2 separate regions of the Homo sapiens genome follow, and region 1 is linked to region 2. A link means that fine-mapping ties the variant in region 2 to the expression of a gene that starts in the linked region. Tissue or cell type: whole blood. Region 2 holds a variant in brackets; the other region holds the start of a gene. All regions are shown on one strand. Distances are from middle to middle.

The links. PIP is the estimated chance that this variant, and not a neighbour inherited with it, causes the effect.
Region 1: it holds the start of LINC02284, and the variant in region 2 is fine-mapped to the expression of LINC02284 in whole blood (INTERVAL, PIP 0.93).

Annotation. Positions count from the first base shown.
Region 1 is chr14:56,305,797-56,316,255 of GRCh38, reverse strand. LINC02284 (long intergenic non-protein coding RNA 2284) reads right to left here and starts at 5,267. Exons shown (of 7, transcript NR_187174.1): 1 at 5,162-5,267.
Region 2 is chr14:56,386,141-56,396,599 of GRCh38, reverse strand. The region is part of intron 6 of LINC02284 (long intergenic non-protein coding RNA 2284); the gene reads right to left. Among named protein-coding and RNA genes, the nearest start is that of LINC02284, 80 kb to the right of the region's middle. The variant T/C (reference allele first, on the strand shown) is at 6,378.

The sequences.
Region 1 (10,459 bases), 80 kb after region 2:
AAAAGAAATCACTTAAGAATTTTCTTGAAACTAAAATAAGAAAATGCAAAAATAGAAGGTCCAAGTCTGAACATGTTTTGATGAGATGAAGTTAACTGCTAAATTGCTAAAGATTGTATTGGAGATTATTTCTGGTAATGTTAATATTGTCCATAATTTTGTAAAAGTAAGTTCTTCATTAAAGAACTCTATAGCAAATGGGTATTATTTACATAGAAATTCCAGAGTTCCAATATCTATTTGCCTGGGATTTAGATAACTTCTTTTCCAAACACGATTAGAGAGAGGAAATAATAAATTATGCCAACATATTGTATTCAAAGGCTTTCTTCTTTCCACATTTTTACTTTCACTTCAGTTTTGAGACTATTTTTTTATTTGCATATTATTCTTCAGCCCTACGTTTTTGGTTATGGGAGTATCTTAAAATGTACCTGGGATTTGATTGATTGATTGAGAGACGGGGTCTCACTCTGTTGCCCAGGCTGGAGTGCAGTGGCATAAACATGGTTCGCTTGCAGCCTCAACCTCCTGGGCTCAAGCAATCCTTCCTCCTTGGCCTCCCGAAGTTTTGGTATTACAGGTGTAAGCCACTGCACCCAGCCCTGGGATTTGTCTTAAACAGGTATGATTGTAATTGCCCAGGCAGGTTCTTCTTGCCCACTGCCCAGAAAAGCCAATGCACTGAGGGCAGCAAGAGTGTTCACAGCAAGGAAAGATTTAATTATTGCAGGCCAGCCAAATAGCATGATGGGAGATAATTCTCAAATCTGCCTCCCTGAGAATTTGGGGACTAGGGTTTTTCAAGGCTAGTTTAGCAAGCAGGGGACTAGGGAATGGGGAATATTTGTTGGCTGGGTTGGAGATGAAATCATAGGGGGTCGACCCTGTCTTGTGCTGAGTTAGTTCCTGAGTGTGGGTTACTGGTCTGGGTGGTGCCAGTTGGTTCATACAGAATTGAAGATCTGAAACATATCTCAAACACCAGTCTTTGGTTTTACAATAGCAATGTTCTCCATAGGGGCAATTGGTGAAGTTATAAATTTTGTGGCTACATCACTCCTGAGTAGTAAGTAATTTTTAAAAAGCAAGTTATAAAACAATGACTGGTTAGGGTTTATACCTACATCTTAGCAGAATTCAGGTTCCTATCACAATTGTAACCTTGTGGACTTTCATTAGTTTTAAAAAGGTGATTTTGGTCCCCGAGTAAGGTGGGGGTTACTTTCAGGAAGGAACTGCTATCATCTTTGTCTTAAAGTTAAATTATAAACAAAATTCCTCCCATAGTTAGCTTAGAATGAGCAAAGGCTTAGCTTGTGAAGTTAGAAGCAAGATGGAGTCAGTTATGTTAGATTTCTCTCACCGTCATAATTTTGCAAAGACAGTTTCATCACAGATATAGAGACAACTGTCTTTGAAAGAAGAGTTTATTACTTACAGGCTCCAAGAGAAGGGGCATGCCATATTATGTCAGGCCTCCGGGGAAGTACCCAGGTCAGTCAGGAAGCAGAAGGAATGAGGGAAAAGCCTGGTCTAGAGTCTTACTGTGGTTTCCATGGGAGAGAAAGGGTGAGGCAGGGAAGGCAGGTTTGAGCAAGCTTAGAATTGGATAGTTTGGATAATGTGGGCAGGCTCTGGCCATAGGGGTGGTCTCTAATTGTCTGATGCCCGGCCTTGGGTGATTTGGCAGTGGAAATACTGGCTTGGTGTATTAGAGTGAGATAAAGGTGGTGGTTGAGGATATGGGCTTTGGATTGGTGGGGTTGTATACAAAAGGTGTGCTCACAGGCAAGTTGTCTGCTATCTCTAAAAATTAGCTAACCCCTGGAGGGGCAGTCCCTCCCCAGGTCCACACAGCCCCCACAGTGTCAAAGCATCATAAAATATGAAAAAAAAGAACATGATTAATACAGGGGTATCATCTCTGAAATTTTCCAAGCAAATCTTTAAACTAAGTTTGGCTATATAATTCTTTTTATTTAGTGATAAAATAAATGCTTTATAAGGAAAAAAGTTGTGAAAAGAATCATGAAAATTGCTACCATTGATGAACACTTACTACGCCTAGCAATTGATGAAACAGTACATATATGACCTCAGTTGAAGTATTAAACTACAAAAGAAAGCTAAATGAAAAAGAAAAGCTTAAATTACCTCCTGCCCTTATTTACTTGTTGTTTGCAAGAGGCAGATCCAAGCAGCTTGGAAAGAGGTAAATCAGCATTTTCTTCTTTCTAGACAGAGCTGAGTCAGCCTCCCAGCACTCACGTGTGGTGTTGTGAGGCTGCTCAGTTAGGAGCATAACCTGCTACATCGGGCAGTTAACTGGCCAATTTGAATGAGTTCTGCCATTGTTTGGCAGCTCAGCTCTGACAGTGACTCTAACAGAAAATCCCTCCACATATGTCCTCAGTTTGTGGGTAAGCGTTCTTAAACTGGCAGTATGCAGGGAGTTACTACCTGGCATATGTACCACCACATCCCAAACCATATCGATGGCAGGTATCATTTTGTCTGAGCAAGGACGCAACCTCAGAAACTCTCAACAGAGTGTTCTAGGAAATTCACACCCAATTTTCATAGGTTGGCATAATAGATGAAACATATTTATTTGCCATCTGATGTGGCTTTGCTGTCTCCCCACCCAAATCTCATCTTGAATTGTAGCTCCCATAATTCTCACATGTCATGGGAGGGACCTGGTAGGAGGTAATTGAATCACATTGACAGATCTTTCCCATGCTGTTCTCGTGATAGTGAATAAATCTCACGAGATTTGATGGTTTTATAAAGGGGAGTTCCCCTGCACCCGCTCTCCTGTCTGCTGCAATGTAAGATGTGTCCTTGCTCCTCCTTTGTCTTCCACCATGATTGTGAGGCCTCTCCAGCCATGTGGAACTGTGAGTCTATTAAACCTCTTTTTTCTTTATAAATTACTCAGTCTCGGGTGTGTCTTTATTAGCAGCATAAGAATGAACTAATACACCATCTCTATACAGAAGGATGAAGACTCTATCTCTATACATAATTATAACTACTTTTTAGAGTATTGTAGATCAAAAGATAATCAGTTACTATTCATTGACTTAAGAAAATCAGACATAATTTGATGTTTATATGTTTATAATGGATATTTGTCCACGAAATGGGATAAATATGAAATGAGACATTCAAAAATGAAATGTCTTATGAAATGTACACTCCTGCTGATGAACTCAAGCCTTTTCCCAGCTAGCTTCAGATGGGCATCTATTGCTTTGGACTGCACAACATCATCCCCTAGTGCCACTTTCCTCTAATACCAGGACCACTCATTCCCATGGGTACCCATTTCCATAGCTGTGGTGTGGTTTGATTGGAACTGCTGTTGCCAACCTTGCCTCACTCCAACCTCCCCACCCCCCACCCCAAGCTGTACAGAGGTAGGCACCTGGTCCAGCTAGGTAACAATATCCCTCCATCCATAGTGACTGCTTCTAGGCTGAGCCAGTCACAGCTCTTCCCATCAGGGGAGACCATTTCTGCAGGAGATGCTAGGCTAGGAGGGTGATATGGTTTGGCTCTGTGTCCCCACTCAAATCTCATGTTGAATTGTAATCCCTGATGTTGGAGGTGGGGCCTGGTGGGAGATGATTGGATCATGGGGGTGGTTTCTGATGGTTTAGTACCATCCCCCTAGTGCTATCTCATGACAGAGTTCTCCTGAGATCTGGTTGTTTGAAAGTGGGTAGCAACTTCCCCTCCACCTTCCTCCTGCTCTGGCCATGTGAAGACCATGCCTACTTTCCCTTCCCCTCCTGCCATGATTATAAGTTTCCTGAGGCCTCCCCATAAGCAGAAGCCGTATAGCTTGCAGAACCGTGAGCTAATTAAACCTCTTTTCTTTATAAATTACCCAGTCTCAGGTATGTCTTTATAGCAGTGTAAGACCAACTAATATATAGGTATTAGTTGGGTATAAGCAAGGGGCTGGTGGTGGTCACCTTTCCTGTCATGTGAAAGACTGCAGGTATAATTATGTGAGCACAGTCAAGAGACAAAGGGAGAGAGACAGCAGCAGTGATGGGGACAGAGTCTGAGCTCTTGGATTCAGCTGTTCCTGAAATCAGAGGCACACTGAACTTCCCAATCCCAAGAGGCAATAAGTTCCTTTTGTGTCCCCTTAGGCTAGTTCAGAAATTGGATTTCTGAATTTGCAGCTGGCAGAGCTCTAATTAATACAAAGACATGTTAAAAAAAAACAAAGGGATATTTTTTACTGTCTTTATAGTGCTATTTTGTGGTGTTCTGACTGTTGCACAGGTGCTTGTTATTGAAGAGATAGATACATGCTCTATATAAAAGACATTTACTGAGTGCTTACTATTGCTAGGCATTATTCTAAGTACTTCCCAAACAGTGAGTAAATTAATTCTCATAAAATCATTTGCAGTGGGTATTACTAGCAATGTTATACAGATGCAGAAACTGGGACAGTAAAACAGTAAAGAAACTTGTCCTAGGTCACAAAGCCCGCAAGTGGCAGAGCTGGGATTTGAACCTAGGCAGACTGGCTTGAGTCTGTGCTCGTAGCCACTATGCTAACACTTACAACTTGCTTTTGTCCTAGTTTTATATTTCATAATTACATCTAATAACAAAAGAGAACAAGGCACCATATACCTTCTCCGTTCCATGCCTTGAATGCTGGCCTCTAGCTGCTGTTCTTCCAAGGTGAGAAAGAGACCTAGTTATACTTTACAGAGAATTTGAGAATCATGGTCCTTTAGACTTGGGAACATTTTGGAAGAAACACTGTCCATAAGCCTCACCTAAATTGGCACAACTGAAAATGCCCATCTTTTCATAAGTCTATTGAACGATGTTATTCAACCAGTGATAAATTAACCCCAAAATACATAGGTGAACTGCAGTATATAACATAGAATAAATATATCTGAGAAAGTCAAATGTTGTGAGATGGGAAAGGGTACTCCTGCTGCTCAAGGATTAGAGTTGAAAGCAGGAAAATCTGCTGTGCTTAACTGGGTAAAGTCACAGCATTTACATTTCTTGTTGATAGCTAGTGAAGATTCTCCTTGAAGCTCAAGTTCTCGCTGCCCTCTGTCCCAGTCCCCTGTAGAATTGTCAAATCCCGCTTTTGCACTTACTTGATTACCTGCTGAAATCCTGAAATTGCCACAGCTGTTGCCATTTCAGCTCCTTGAATTTATGAGCACCAATGCATCTCCCTTGCATCTGCTTTGGCTGTTGCTTTTGAAAGGAGCGATCACACAAGGAGGGGTAGAGGAAGAGGCCCAGATAGTTCTGTGGCACTGAAGGCAGCTAAGAAAAGAAGGAACTCTTGACTTTGCGATTAGAATAGTAGCAACTGAGAACATTAAATGTGTTTATCTTTCTTCTGAGGAATGCCAAGTATTTTTTAAAAGAGAACCCTGACTCATCGTGCAGAAGCACAAGGACACACACTAAAAATAGTGGCGTGGTTTCTAACATCGAGATGCTCCGCAGCGGGTGACGAGAGGTTTGCTTCTAAATAGACAGGTAACCTACGGAGAGCATATGACGATCTTCTCTCTAAAGGAGTCTGTCAACTCTGTGGGATCTTCCTTTCAGATGACTGATGGGTACAGCAGGGTGGAGGTCGGGAAGGGGAGGCCAATGGATATGGAGGTGGTACTGTTTCCATAAGCATTTCTCTTCTTTCCTTAATGGAATCGACATACACTCTGGCTTCCGCAACGTCCTAGATTAAAGTGGCTTTAAGCCAAGGAGTAAGCCAGTCAGACACCCTTTACACATCCTCAGTTCTAGGTGGGCTCTGGTCTGGGACCAACTATTCTCCCTGATTGATCTGTGCCCTGCCACGGCCTCAGAGAAAGACTGATTCCTGCGTATTCACTAAGGACAGTAAGATGCTTCTGGACAGTCAGATATTTGGGACCTTGATATTCCCCACAGTTGAGTCCACTGGCTCTTTATGCACAGGTGACCAGCACTGACCGAAGCTTCTCAGAGTGAAACTGAGCATCTTTCCAGGTGCCTGCACCGCCAAAGCCGAGACCATCTCTCCATTTCCACACACAATGGCACCTTCAGAAAGCAGGGAGAGGATGTACCTCCCTGCCAAAATCAATCCTGGTCAACTCCAAGTGAGTCTATAAGCCGTACTAAAATAAAGCTGATTTAACAAATAATGGCTTAACACATGGAATCACTAAATGTTATGCTTTAATGTATTTGTAAGAAAATCTCACCATTTGATGTTAAAAGGAGGAACAAGATGAATTTTGACACGCATTTGTCAAATCTTGAGGAACATTAACTTTCTGAGCAGAGAAGACCTTTTTAGAGCCCCCAGATGGAAACTGGATAAAGTCCTTTAGACTTATGAAAAGCTACATGCTTGAACACAGCTCCTGCCCTGTGGTTTCAAATACAGGCTTAGGACTTCTGCCTCTGAATAGGCTGTCGGGCAGCAGACTGATGCTCTCACCAAAAATAACTAGAAAGGCCACATAAAATAAAATTAAATTTAAAACTCGGTTAAAAGACATAAGAGAACTGCTGATGCATAGGTGACTATCAAGGCCACAGTTTGAAGAGGGTAGAATCACAGAGGGGTGAGTTGTTGATCTGTTGATCTGCAACTTCTTTTATTCGGGGACATTTGCAGAGTTTAGATGTAGAGTAAGAATCCGCCACTGGAGCAGAGAAATCAGCAGAGCTCTAGATAGCCTTGGAGGGTTCAAAAGACAAAGTTGAAAATATACGAGGCCAAGATCCTGGTGAGAGGCAGAAAACTGACCCTGGTTTTCTCTTCAAGAGGTTAAGAGAGCAAAAGGCTAAAAGATTAACAGGGCAAAAGGCTAAGTGGAAAGACTGAAAAGAAAGTGAAGTTTTTGGCAGGGTCACCATGCTTAGGGAACAAGAATTACGGTTCAGGACTCACAAGGGGAAGGGCCCTGGTGAATAAACCAGGGTCTTGGCTGAGGCCTTAGGAGCCTAGATTTCACTCAGCTCAGTGAAAGTTGATTATCCCCTTCTCAGCTTGCCTAACAAAAGAAGGTGTACTCCCCTTTGGTGAAGAATAACATCTGGAGCCTCCATACTTTTCCTTTTAATGGATAATGCGCAGCGTTCAATCAAAACTTTTGGGGGTCCCAGCAGCATGCCTGGTAATGGCTGTGATGACAGTTTTCTAATATTTAATTTGATATTAAGTGCATATCTAATTCATAGAACTTGGGCTTCCTGGAAGCACGGTTGCCACAGGCAGTCTGGGAAACAGTGCCAAGGTGTGTGAGTCTGTGTCTGTGTGTATAACACTGGCTTTCATACAGGAGCTGCTCATTAAGGGATAAGCTGCAAGCCAATCATTTGTCAAAGATAATTCTCATTCGGTTTCATACCAAGGAGTGAGGAAGATTTTTTTTTAACTGTGAAAACCCCACAAAAACAAAAAGAACAACAAAAAAAGAACAAAGAAGCCGCCTCGCATCCTACAAATACAAGTCAGTATTCCTTCTGTGTTCTCTTGTAGCATGGTGCTTCATTTTACTTATCTGTATTCTTCCCAAGCTGCAAATTTACTAGGGCCACAGACTATATCTACCTCAGTCACACAAGTCTCCTCCAGTGGCTGGTGCAGTGCCTGGAGTACAATGGGGGCTTAATAAATATTTTTTATAGAATTAATGAAGGAAATAAATAAAAGCAAACTGAATGTCAAACTTACTTTGGGAAAACAGTCACAATACAGTTGTGATCTGCAGTTGGGTGCACAAAAGCCCAATGTGAACTATAGCAGAAAGTCTCTTATCTGATGTAGTTAGAAAGGTAGTTATTCAGGCCAGGGACAGTGGCTCACACCTGTAATCCCAGCACTCTGGGAGGCTAAGGTGAGGATCCCTTGGGACCAGCAGTTCAAGACCAGCCTGGGCAACATAGTGAGACCCCATCTCTAAAAAAAAAAAAAGTTAGCTGGGTATGGTGGTGTACACTCATAGACCAAAGTACTCAGGAGGCTGAGGTGGGAGGATCATGTAAGCTCAGGAGTTTGAGGCTGCAGTGAGCTAGGATCACGCCACTGTACTGTAGCCTGGGTAACAGAGGGAGCCCATGTCTCAAAAAACAAAACCAAAAAAATTTTTTTAAAAAAGGAAAGAAAGGTAGTTTTCAGTTCATTGAAAGTAATTTATAGCAGGGAACTTATAGAAAATATATACTTATTTTGCATTTTACCCTTCATACCTCATTTTAACTTAAACACAAATGCACATTTGTATACTAATATCTTGACAGTGTGCCAAAGCCTTTTGAGTATAGGTCCGTTTACAAGAGTCAAGTGATCCTTCTTGATGATCTTTCTTGAATGAACAGCATTCACAATGAATCATTTCCAATTTAAGCTTTTTTAAAGTGGAGTGAGAACCAAAAGGCAGTAGGGACAATCTGAGCAAAAACTTCACAAAGCCCATACACTTTCCAATATTTTCCAGTTTTCTTTCCCATACTTGAAACCTTTTTTTAAAAGCAATTTGCTTAAAGTCCTCTCAAAGTATTCAGCTTAATTTTCAAAGGCAAAACAACTCTTTGATACTCATATTTATGAGATTATGTGACATTTAATTACCTAATATTAACAGTATGACTGATATAATAAGTTTGGAAACAACTATAACTGAATCCTGGTAAGCATACAACTCAACTGGCAGAAGCAGAAGTATGCGGGTTAGGAGAAGGTAGCAAATTACTAGGTGGGAGCATGGGCATGCCATGGGCATTCATTAGTATGTTTCATAGAGGCGTGGTCAATCCCGTAAGAAAGCAAAGTAGAGGTCATATAAGAGAGCTTATAGAGAAAGTGTTATTAAGGACAAGGAGCAGCTTCCATTTGCAAAGGGTAAGTATTCCAGAGTATTTAAATATATGATAGTTTAACTATTAATTAAGTTAAACTGCCTTAACATATTAACATTTTATAGTAAAGAATGGAAAATACATACATCACCATTACATGTACATATATAGTAATACATAGTCAAATATTTAATTGCTTTTAAATATATTTAACATAAATTATATTTATACCATATTCAAAAGTCTTTTTGAAATATTTTAAATTTTCCTTTGCTATCTTCTACCAATTTAGGATGAAAAAGGGGGGTTTGATAGGTAGCTAATCCTGTTTGAATTATCAGAAGCTCCAAATTAATGCATTACAAATTGCATGTGTAATAGGTGGTACAGCAGGCCACTTTTAGACAACAGGCTCCTGGAGAATAGAGCTAGCACTCAATGAATATGCTGTACACAAGACTCTACCAACATTAGTTCTCCATAAACCTCATTTTTTCTTTTCTTTCTAAACATTCAGACCTGTAATAAGAATGCAGCTCAGGTCTATCCACTTAAATGCTGTGCCAAGATATCATACTATAGATATTTTTGCACTTAGTCTATTAGGTAATTTTTGCCTGACATGAGTATTAACGAGAACGGATATACTTGTTAGGTATTGCAAATAATTCAACTTTAAAAACATTTTCTATTACTTCTCTTTCAAGCTTCTTGCTCGGACTAAAGAGTATTAAGATTGCAGGTGAGCTATGAATCATTTTCTCCAACAAACACACACACACACAAAAACAGATGAGACTGATATAAGATTATAACTATTTCCTCTAACACTAGACATTATTTTTTTTCTCATTACACAATTTTACCCATTTAAGCTTATGAAGCTTAAATATTGCTGCAATATTGCTTTTCTCTACTTGCATGTTAGGAATCCATGAGATTTTATTTGATTTTTTTTTCAAAAGTGTTGTGCACATATATAACAATTTGCAAACCATTGATTTGGTCCAATTTTATTATCTCTCAGAGTAAAAAACAGACAGGGATTAAGTAACTTGCAAAAGATCACAAAATTAATTAGAGGCCACACCATTAACAGAAACTGACACTTATGTCAATGATCTTCCCATTGATCACACTGGCTTTGTGTTTTCTAATTTCAGCCATGATGATTCAGACTAAACTAGTCATTGAAATCTTCATTTTCTGAAGCAGTTTTCATCCTAAAGACTCATGAATGTTAAGTAGAGAATCAAATCCATTAAAAGATCTAACTACCATCAATTGGTTTAGATAAAGAAGGAGTTTTCATCTAATGGAAATGTTGATGGAAGGCAGGAACTTGAAATTTGGCTAGTTTATTGGGTTTCATTGCATAAATTATGGCAATTTAAATGAGTTTTTATTCTTACCCTATACAAGAAACTAACAAAAGAACTGGTAAAACTTTTGGATGCTTTCCATCAGCAGCCTAGGGTAATAATCCAGCTTGGCATCCATCCAATCCAAGAAGTGAATTATTCCAAATAAATAAACTAATTCTAATAACAGAATAGGGCTTCAATATCATAAAAATAAATATATTTAAAATTGA
Region 2 (10,459 bases):
CAGAAGTTCTTTAGTTTAATTAGATCCCATTTGTCAATTTTGGCTTTGGTTGCCATTGCTTTTGGTGTTTTAGACATGAAGTCCTTGCTCATGCCTATGTCCTGAATGGTATTGCCTAGGTTTTCTTCTAGGGTATTTATGGCCCAAGGTAATTTATAGATTCAATGCCATCCCCATCAAGCTACAAATGACTTTCTTCATGGAATTGGAAAAAAACTACTTTAAAGTTCATATGGAACCAAAAAGGAGCCCGCATTGCCAAGTCAATCCTAAGCCAAAAGAACAAAGCTGGAGGCATCATGCTACCTGACTTCAAACTATACTACAAGGCTACAGTAACCAAAACAGCATGGTACTTGTACCAAAACAGAGATATAGACCAACGGAACAGAACAGAGCCCTCAGAAATAATGCCACATATCTACAACTATCTGATCTTTGACAAACCTAACAAAAACAAGAAATGGGGAAAGGATTCCCTATTTAATAAATGGTGCTGGGAAAACTGGCTAGCCATATGTAGAAAGCTGAAACTGGATCCCTTCCTTACACCTTATACAAAAATTAATTCAAGATGAATTAAAGACTTAAATGTTAGACTTTAACATTTTAGATGACTACTTGTCAATTATTTTGTAGAGTGTTTCTATTTTCTCATGATTAAGTTGAGATTTTTGCATTTTTTTGCAAAAATACCACAAAAGTGATGCTGTGCCCATCTCAGTGCATCATATTGGGGGGTACATGATGTCAATATGTCCTATCAGTGGTGATGCTTACTTTGATCATTCAGTTAAGATGGTGTCTGCCATGTTTTTCCATTGTAAAGTTTTCATTTTTTTTTTTTTTACCTAATAAACCAATAGTTTGGGGACAATACTTTGAAGCTACAAGTATCCTGTTTCCTATTAAACTTTAGTCCACTGATTTTAACATCTGTCAGTGGATCTTGCCTACAATGATTACTGTTTAATGTAATATCTGCCTAGTGGTGATGTATTTCCTGCATTCATTCTACATTTATTAATTAGAATTCCTCTGTAAGGAAAAGCTGTCCTATCCCTTTCCCCTGTTTATTTATTTATTCAATTATTTATATTAGTATGGATATTTATTTTATTTTATGGGTTACAATCCATTATTATTATTGTTATTTTGTTGCTCAAATTGTTCTCGATTTGCCCATTGGGAGTGCCTTCCAATTGGCTTGGCTGTGATGTGCTTTTGTCATGCCTCATCCTATTTTGAGCACTTCCTTATTTTCTGGGATGGCAACATGTTTCAGAGGCTCATCTTCTGCTTTCCTCGCCCTAGCCCTGGAATCAGCAACTTCTCCAAGAAGCTCTGGCTCCTCTTATTGGAAAAGAAACATCTTGGATTTAAAATATAAAAAATGAACTCAAACATAAAAATATATTGCGGATGCATATTTGGGTCATATAGTTTTTCACGTTGGAACCTCTGATACAAGAGATCACAGAGATAGCAGGAAAGGTCAGAAGGTCGACTCTCTACTTGGAATTGCTAAATACATATTCTAAACATGTAGCAGAAACAATAGCCTTGAAGGAAGAGATTTTTTCATTACTCAAGCCAGAGCCAAGTTTCTGGGCCAGACAATAGATTTTTTTTTTTTAATTAATAAGCTTTGTGTTTTAGAGCAGTTTTAGGTTCACAGCAACATCAAGCAGAAAGTATAGGGTTCCCACATAGCTCCTATCCCAACTTACACAGAACCTCCTCCACTACCGGCATCCCCCACTAGAGTGGTACAATGGATGAACTTACATTGACATATGATTGTCACCCAAAGTCCACAGTTTACATTAGGGCTCACTCCTGGTGTTGTATGTTCTAAGGGTTTTGATAGATGTATAAAGACATGTATCCACCGTTTTGGTATCATACAGAGTAATTTCACTGCCCTAAAAATCCTCTGTGCTCTGTCTATTCACTCCTCCCTCCCCACAACCTCTGCCAGCCACTAATCTTTTTACTGTCTCCATAGTTTTGTCTTTTCTAGAATGTCATATACTGTAATTAGAATCATACAGTATGTGGCCTGCTCAGATTGACTTCTCTCATTTAGCAATATGCATTTAAATTCCTCTATGTCATTTCATGGCTTGATAGCTCATTTCCTTCTAGAGGTAAATAATATTCCATTGTCTAGATATACTACAGTTTATCCATTCACCTACTTAAGGACGTTTTGGTTGCTTTTAAGTTTTAACAATTATAAGTAAAGCTACTATAAACATCTGTGTGCGGATTTTTGTGTGGACATAATTTTTCAATTCGTTTGGGTAAATACTAATAAGTATAATTGTCAGATCATACGGTACGGCTATGTTTAGTTTTGTAAGAAAATACCAAACTGTCTTCCAAATTGGCTGTACCAGTTTGCAATTCCACCAGCAATAAATGGGAGTTTCTGTTGTCTTGTCTCACCAGCATTTGGTGTTGTCAGTGTTTTGCATTTTGGCCATTTTAATAGGTTTGCAGTCATATCTCAATGTTGTTTTAATTTGTATTTCTCTGATGAGATATGATGTAGAACATCTTTTCATATGCTTATTTGCCATATGTATACCTTTTTTGGTGAGATCTCTGTTTAGGTCTTTTGCCCTTTTTTTTTTTTTTTTTTTTTTTTTTTTGAGATGGAGTCTCACTCTGTCACCCAGGCTGGAGTGCAGTGGTGCTATCTCAGCTCACTGCAACCTCTGCCTCCTAGATTTGAGCGGTTCTCCTGCCTCAGCCTCCCAAGTAGCTGGGACTACAGGTGCATCCCACCATGCCTGGCTAATTTATGTATTTTTAATAGAGACAGGGTTTCACCATGTTGGCCAGGCTGGTCTTGAACTCCTGACCTCAACTGATCCACCTGTCTTGGCCTCCCAAAGTGCTGGGATGACAGGCATGAGCCACAGTGCCAAGCCTTGCCCATTTTTAGTTGGGTTGTTTGTTTTCTTATTCTTAATTGGGTTGTTTGCTGAGCTTGAAGGGTTTTTAGTATATTTTGGATAATAGTCCTTTATCAGACGTCTCTTTTGCAAATATTTTCTCCCAGTCTGTAGCTTGTCTTCTCATTCCCTTGACATTGTCCTTCACAGAGGAGAAGTTTTTAATTTTAATGAAGCCCAGCTTATCAATTATTTCTTTCATGTGTCATGCCTGTAGTTTTGTATCTTAAAAGTCATCTCCATACCCAAGGTCAATTAGGTTTTCTTTTATGGTATCTTGTAGGAATTTTATTGTTTTGTGTTTTATATGTAAGTCTGTGATCCATTTTTAGTTAATTTTTGTGAAGAGTGTAAGGGCTTTATCTAGATGGGTCTTTTTTAAATTTTATTTTTATTTTTATTTTTGCATGTAGATGTTCCAGTTGTTCTAGCAACATTTGTTGAAAAAACAAACAAAACAAAACAAAAAAGCACCACATTTTCTCCATTGAATTGCCTTTGTTACTTTGCCAAAAATCAGGTGACCAATCATGCAGGTCCGTTTCTGGACTCTCTATTCTGTTTCATTTGTCTCTTTGTCTGTTTTTTTCACCAGATGCCACACTGCCTTGATTACTGTAGCTTTACAGTAAGACAATAGATTTTTAAGAATACAGTACTCACCTGGCTGGTTCTCTTAAAGACAGTCCAGACAGCACGGTGCAGCAACAAAACAGGGGAGACGATGGGGCCAAAGAGGGCTTTCACATTTGTCTAACTCTCCTGCACACACACAGAAGGGAAGTTTGCCTTACTTCTGGATATATCAAGGGAGTGATATAAAGGGCCCCAGTGGATCTGAAGGAGCTTTTGGTTGGGATGAGGGATACACAGAGTACATGGACATGCTAATCTGATACCAAAGAGGAAACAAAGACACTGGGCTAAAGGTGTGATGTCCAAAGAGCAGATGGTGCAAGCAATATCTCAGTGAATGCCAGTCCATACTGAAGGCCACCTCCTCCTTCCCATTGCTAGAAGCTTCAGCCTTCCCTGCAACTTAGAGTATCTGTGGAGAAAGTGGGGGAGGGAACCTAAATACACCAAGTTTGTAAAGTTACAAAAAAATATAGAAAAAACTGACATGTTTTAACACACTTGTTAGCTTGGGTTTTGTTTGTTTGTTTGTTTGTTTTTAAGATGGAGTCTTGCTCTGTCACCCAGGCTGGAATGCAGTGGCGTGATCTCGGCTCACTGCAAGCTCCGCATCCCGGGTTCATGCCATTCTCCTGCCTCAGCCTCCTGAGTAGCTGGGACTACAGGTGCCCACTACCACACCTGGCTAACTTTTTGTATTTTTAGTAGAGACGGGGTTTCACTGTGTTAGCCAGGATGGTCTCGATCTCCTGACTTCGTGATCCGCTCGCCTCAGCCTCCCAAAGTAGCTTGGGTTTTAAAAGTCTCACCTAGGCCGGGTGCAGTGGCTCATGACTATAATCCCAGTACTTTGGGAGGCTGAGGCGAGTGGACCACGTGAGGTCAGGAGTTCGAGACCAGCCTGGCCAACATGGTGAAACCCCATCTCTACTAAAAATACAAAAATTAGCCCAGCATGGTGGCACATGCCTGTAATCCCAGCTACTCGGGAGGCTGAGGCAGGAGAATGGCTTGAACCCAGGAGGTGGATGTTGCAGGGAGCCAAGATCGTGCCATTGCACTCCAGCCTAGGCAATAGAGTGAGACTCAGTCTCAAAAAAAAGAAGTCTTACCTGCTGTAAAATCATGAAGCTAACTTAGTGCTCATCTATCAAACTTATACTGAATGAGGTTACTTGAATGTCTGAGTTCAGACTTCTAAGAGCATGAAAGGCAGCAGAGTTCTCTTGAAGGGCAGTAGAGCCTCCTTTTTGTTTTTTGTTTCGCACATTCTAGTTGTGCTAACCAAGAGAGATGTACCCCCACCCTACTCCAGGTAATCTTATTAAAACGTTCGCTCCAATTGTGTTGAGTCATGGCTCATTGGATAAGAACATTTAGATATTAGAAGTCCACATCATCTAAGGTCAAGCCTCCAGTGAAAGGAACATGGAGGTGATGCAATTATACTGATTTCTGAGCAGATGGCTGTTTTCTAGAGGGAAATGGTGCATAAAACACACAAATAATGAAAGACTTGAGAGAGAAATTCTTCATGGCAGTCGTGACTATAAAATCAACACAAAGGGACTAATTCACAGAATTGGTACAATGTTTAAAAGCACTAGGGAAAATTAGAGGTACTTGCTGCCCTGATGGGGCATTCTGCCTAGACTTGGAGGTGTAAGGGCATAGGATGAGGTGCAGGTATACACGTTTCTATATGTGGTATATACAAATCTCAGTTCACAAACCCAGGTGTGGAAAGAGTTAATACTTACAATGACCCCCTTTTCTTCCAGGCAATAGAAATTTAATTTCAGTCATTTCCGGATACCTGCCTTTCCCCTGTGATTGCATCTCAGTTTGAGGATTACACAGTGCTACTGAATGAAGGTTAGGAATGTAGGGCATCTCATCTAAGTTGGCTGCACTCTTCACTAGCATAGCTACTTAGATGGGACAGGGACACCTGCTGGTCATTGCCAAGTCATCCCTTTGTCAGACCATACCATAGTAACTCTGGATCTGGTTTTGAGTTGCAATACCTTGATGTCTCCATGCCATTCTGAGACCACAGAAAACTTGGTGGGACCATCCACAGCCATGTGTCACTTCCTTGGTACCCTTGGGTACACAAGTATAATTCTACTGTCCCAGTACCCCAACCTCACCATTCACAGGTCTACTCTGAGACATTTTCAAACTTATCTACCAGGGCAGAGTAGACAGCCATCCTTACTTGGGGGTCTTGCCTCCTTTCTCGAGTCTACCAGAGAAGGTGAACACAGGTTTCTTCTGTACTACAATCCCGAAACATATCTGGAGTTCCTGTTGTGGAACATTCTCCCTGGTACCTACCAGGAAGAGAGCTGGGTGCAGGCTTTTTCATCCAGGACTCATTACCATCTACGACAGGGGTGTTCAATCTTTTGGCTTCCTTTAGCTGCATTGGAAGAAAGCAAATTGTTTTGGGCCACACATACAATACACTAACACTAACAATAGCTGATGAGCTAAAACAATTGCAAAAAAATCTCATAAAGTTTTAAGAAAATTTATGAATTTGTGTTGGGTGACATTCAAACCCATCTTGGGCTGCATGTGACCTGCAGGCTGCGGGTTGAACAAGCTTGATCTAAGCTCTCCTTTCTTCTGTTTTCAGAGGAAGAACAAGCTTTCTCTGTTTTCCTGGTTGGTTGATGAAGGGAGCTTGGGGCACACTTTGGCCTAAAGGAGGGAGAGCCATGTGGATTCAGGAAGCTTCTTTTTTATTATTCATCACTTCTCCCACATCTA[T/C]TGTAAACACTCCAGTTCTGTTCTCCTGAGGCCAAGACTTTAAAAACTAAAAAGCTAATTAATTGACTCATTTTGTGTTATTTGCTTTCTTCCCAGTTATTCCTTTCCTTAGGTAGTGATGCCTACATAGACAGAAGGATCAAGGGTTACAAGAGGGGTGAAAAACTATACATATATTCTAGCCACATAAACACTACTGTGTTTCCCCAGTATCGTGATCCCTGCCAAGGTCAGCTACAGCCCACAATGTACACTAGGAAAAAATCAAACAATGTGGACTTAGCAGCTGGATTAACAGTGGGGTCAGCTCAGGAGACCTCACCTTCGATTCTTTGGTTCATTCTCCGTTCTTAGTCTTCTTGGAGGGCCCCAGTTGTTGTATTTTAGAAACTAGGACTTCATCAATCAGATATCATGCTAAAATGAGTCCAGCCCTTTTCTTGTCTCCTCTCACTTTGCCTCTTCTCCTTTCTCTTTTTCTTCCTGCCTCTCCATTTTTCTTTCTCTACTCTGCTTTGTCTTTCCTCTCCAAAGGCAAATCAAAGGACATGATTCCAGGACTTTTGCAGGAGATTCTCATTTGCTTTGTTGGAGAAATTATTGTTCGGTCTGACATCTGTGGCCCCAGCATCATACCCAGTTAGTGCCTCTTTTCACCTTTGATACTGTTCAGATTTGAGTGATGAACTATGTGGCCACTCTAGTCATTACAGACCAGCTTATCCTTAAAAATATTTGACCTCAGTTGAAAACTATTTAGATGTCATAACAATTTAAACAAATATGGACATACTGTTAGGGCATGCTCAAAAAAGTCAGGCTTCAGGAGATGGAGCAAGACGGCCGAATAGAACCCTCCAGCGATGGTCTCCGCAACAGGAACACCAAATTCAACAACTATCCACACAAAAAAGCACCTTCATAAGAACCAAAAATTAGGGGAGTAATCGTAGTACCTGGATTTAACATCATATTAAGAAAAGAGATACAGAAGGGGGTAAGAAAGACAGTCTTGAATCACTTATGTCACCCCCCCACCCATCCTCCAGCAGTGGCCATGTGGCATGGAGAGAAAATCTGTGCACTTGGGGAGGGACTACGCAGCGATTGTGGGACTTTGCATTGGATCTCACTTCTGCCCTATCACAGTGGAAAACAAAACAAGGAAAAATTCAGCCAGCACCCACAGAGGGAACATTTAGATGAGCCCTAGCCAGAGGGGAATTGTCCATCCCAGCAGACAGAAACTGAACTCTGGCAAGCTCCACCACCATAGGTTAAAGTACTCTAGGATCCTAAATAAACTTGAAAGGCACTCTAGGCCACGAGGACTGCAATTCCTGGGCAAGTCCTGGTGCTATGCTGGGCTCAGAGCCACTGGACTTGGGGTGCACACAACCTAGTGAGACACCAGCTGGGAGGGCTAACAGAGTGCTTGCATAACCCCTTCCCCAACCCCAGGCAGTACAGCTCACAACTCCTTCCCTATACTTGAGGATACAAGAGGGGAAAGTAAAGAGGACTTTGTCTTACAACTTGGATACCAGCCCAGCCACAGTAGAACAGAGCACCAGGCAGAGTCATGAGGACCCCATTCCAGGCCCTAGCTCCTGGATGACATTTCTGGACACATCCTGGGCAAGAGGGGAGCCCACTGCCCTGAAAGAGAGATCTAGGCCTGGCAGCATTTACCACAAGTTGACTGAAGAGCCCTTGGGATTTGAGTGAATATCAGTGGTAGCCAGGCAGTACTTACCACATGCCTAGCCAGTAGTGGCCACAAGGAAAAACTCCTCTGCTTGAGGAAAAGGAAGAGAAGACTGGGAAACACTTTGTTTTGTAGCTTGGGTGCCAGCTCAGCTGTAGCAAAATAGAGCACAAGGTAGCTTCTGAAAGTTCCCAACTCCAGGCCTTGGTTCTGGGATGGCATCTCTGGACCCTCCTAGGGCTGGGGGGGATCTTGCCATCCTAAGGGAAGAACAGAAGCCTAGCTGGATTCACCACCTGCTGGTTGTAGAGCCCTTGGACCTTGAATGAACATAGGCTGTAGCCAGGCAGTGGTCACCAAGGGCCTTAGATGAGACACAGTGCTGTGCTGGTTACAGGTCTGACCCAGTGCAATCCCAGTGATGGTGTTTGCATCACCCCTCCCCCAGCTCCAGGCAGCTCAGCGTAGAGAAAGAGATTCCATTCATTTGGGGGAAAGTAAGAGAAAAGTATCTCTGCCTGGTAACCCAGGGATTTCTCTCAGATCTTACCCAAGGCCACCAAGGCAGTAGTACCTCTATGAGTCTGCAAGAGCCACAGCATTGTTGGGCTTGGGATAATCCCTAATCCAGATATGGCTCTAGTGACCAAAAACTTAGATCATAACACCCAAGTCTCTTTGAATACTTGGAAAGCCTTCCCCAGAAGGACAGGCATGAACATGTCTGCAAAGACTACAATAAATACCTAATTCTTCAATTCCTAGATGTGGATAAATATCCACAAGCATCAAGACCATCCAGGAAAACATAACCTAATCAAATAAACTAAATAAGGCATCAGGAGGTCAATCTCTGATAGACAGAGATACGTGACTTTTAAGATATGGAATCCAAAGTAGCTGTTTTGAGGATGCTCAATGAAATTCAAGATAATACAGAGAAGGAATTCAGAGTTCTATTAGATAAATATAACAAAGAGATTTATGTAATAAAAACAATCAAGAAGAAATTATGAAGCTCAAAAATGCAATTGATGTACTGAAAAAAGCATCAGAGTCCCTTAATAGCAGACTTGATCAGGCAGAAGAATTAGTAAGCTTGAAGATAAGTTATTTGAAAATACATGGTCAGAGGAGACAAAAGAAAACAGAATAAAAAAGAATAAAGCATGCCAGAAGATCTAGAAAATAGCCTCAAAAGGACAAATCTAAGAGTTATTGGCCTTGAAGAGGAGGTAGAGAGAGAGAGAGTATGGAAACTGTATTCAAAGAAATAATAACAGAGAACTTTCCAATACTAGAGAAAGATATCAATATTCAAGTACAAGAAGGTTATAGAACACCAAGCAGATTTAATCCCCAAAAGACTATATCAAGACATTTAATAATCAAACTCCCAAAGGTCAAGGATGAAGAAGGAATCTTGCTACTTTTAGCAAGAGAAAAGAAACAAATCACATACAAAGGAACTCCAGTACATCTGTCAGTAGACTTATCAGTGGAAACCTTACACACAAGGAGAGAGTGGAATGGCATATTTAAGGTGCTGAAGGAAAAAAACTTTTACCCTAGAATGGTATATCCAGTGAAAATATCTTTCAGGCATGAAGGAGAAATAAAGACTTTCCCAGACAAACAAAAGCTGAGGGATTTCATCAGCTCCAGACCTGTCCTACAATAAATGCTAAAGGGAGTTCTTCAACCTGAAAGAAAAGGCTATTAATGAGCAATAAGAAGTCATCTGAAGCTACAAAACTCACTAGTAATAGTAAGTACATAGACAAACACAGATTATAACACTGTAATTTTGATGTGTAAACTACTCATATCTTAAGTAGAAAGACAAAAACATGAACCTATCAAAAATAATGACTATAACAACCTTTCAAAACATAGACAGTATAATAAAGATATAAACAGAAACAACAAAAAGTTAAAAAGTGGCAGGATGCAGTTAAAGTGTCAAGTTTTTGTTAGTGTTTTCTTTGCTTGTTTGTAAGTTTGTTTGTTTATGTAATCAGTGTTGTCAGTATAAAACAATGGATTATACAATATTATTCCCAAGCATCAAATAAAATAAATACAACAGATACACAAAATATAGAAAGCAAGAATTTAAAACATACCACCAGAGGAAATCACCCTCACTAAAGGAAGGCAGAAGGGAAGGAAAAAAAAAGGAAAAGAAGACCACAAAACAACTAGAAAATAAAAGCAAAGTGGGAGAAATAAGTGCTTAGGTAATAATAACATTGAATGTAAATGGACTAAACTCTCCAATCAAAAGACAGAGAGTGGCTGAATGGATAAAAAAACAAGACCCAATGATCTGCTGCCTACAAGAAATACACTTCACCCATAAAGACACATGTCA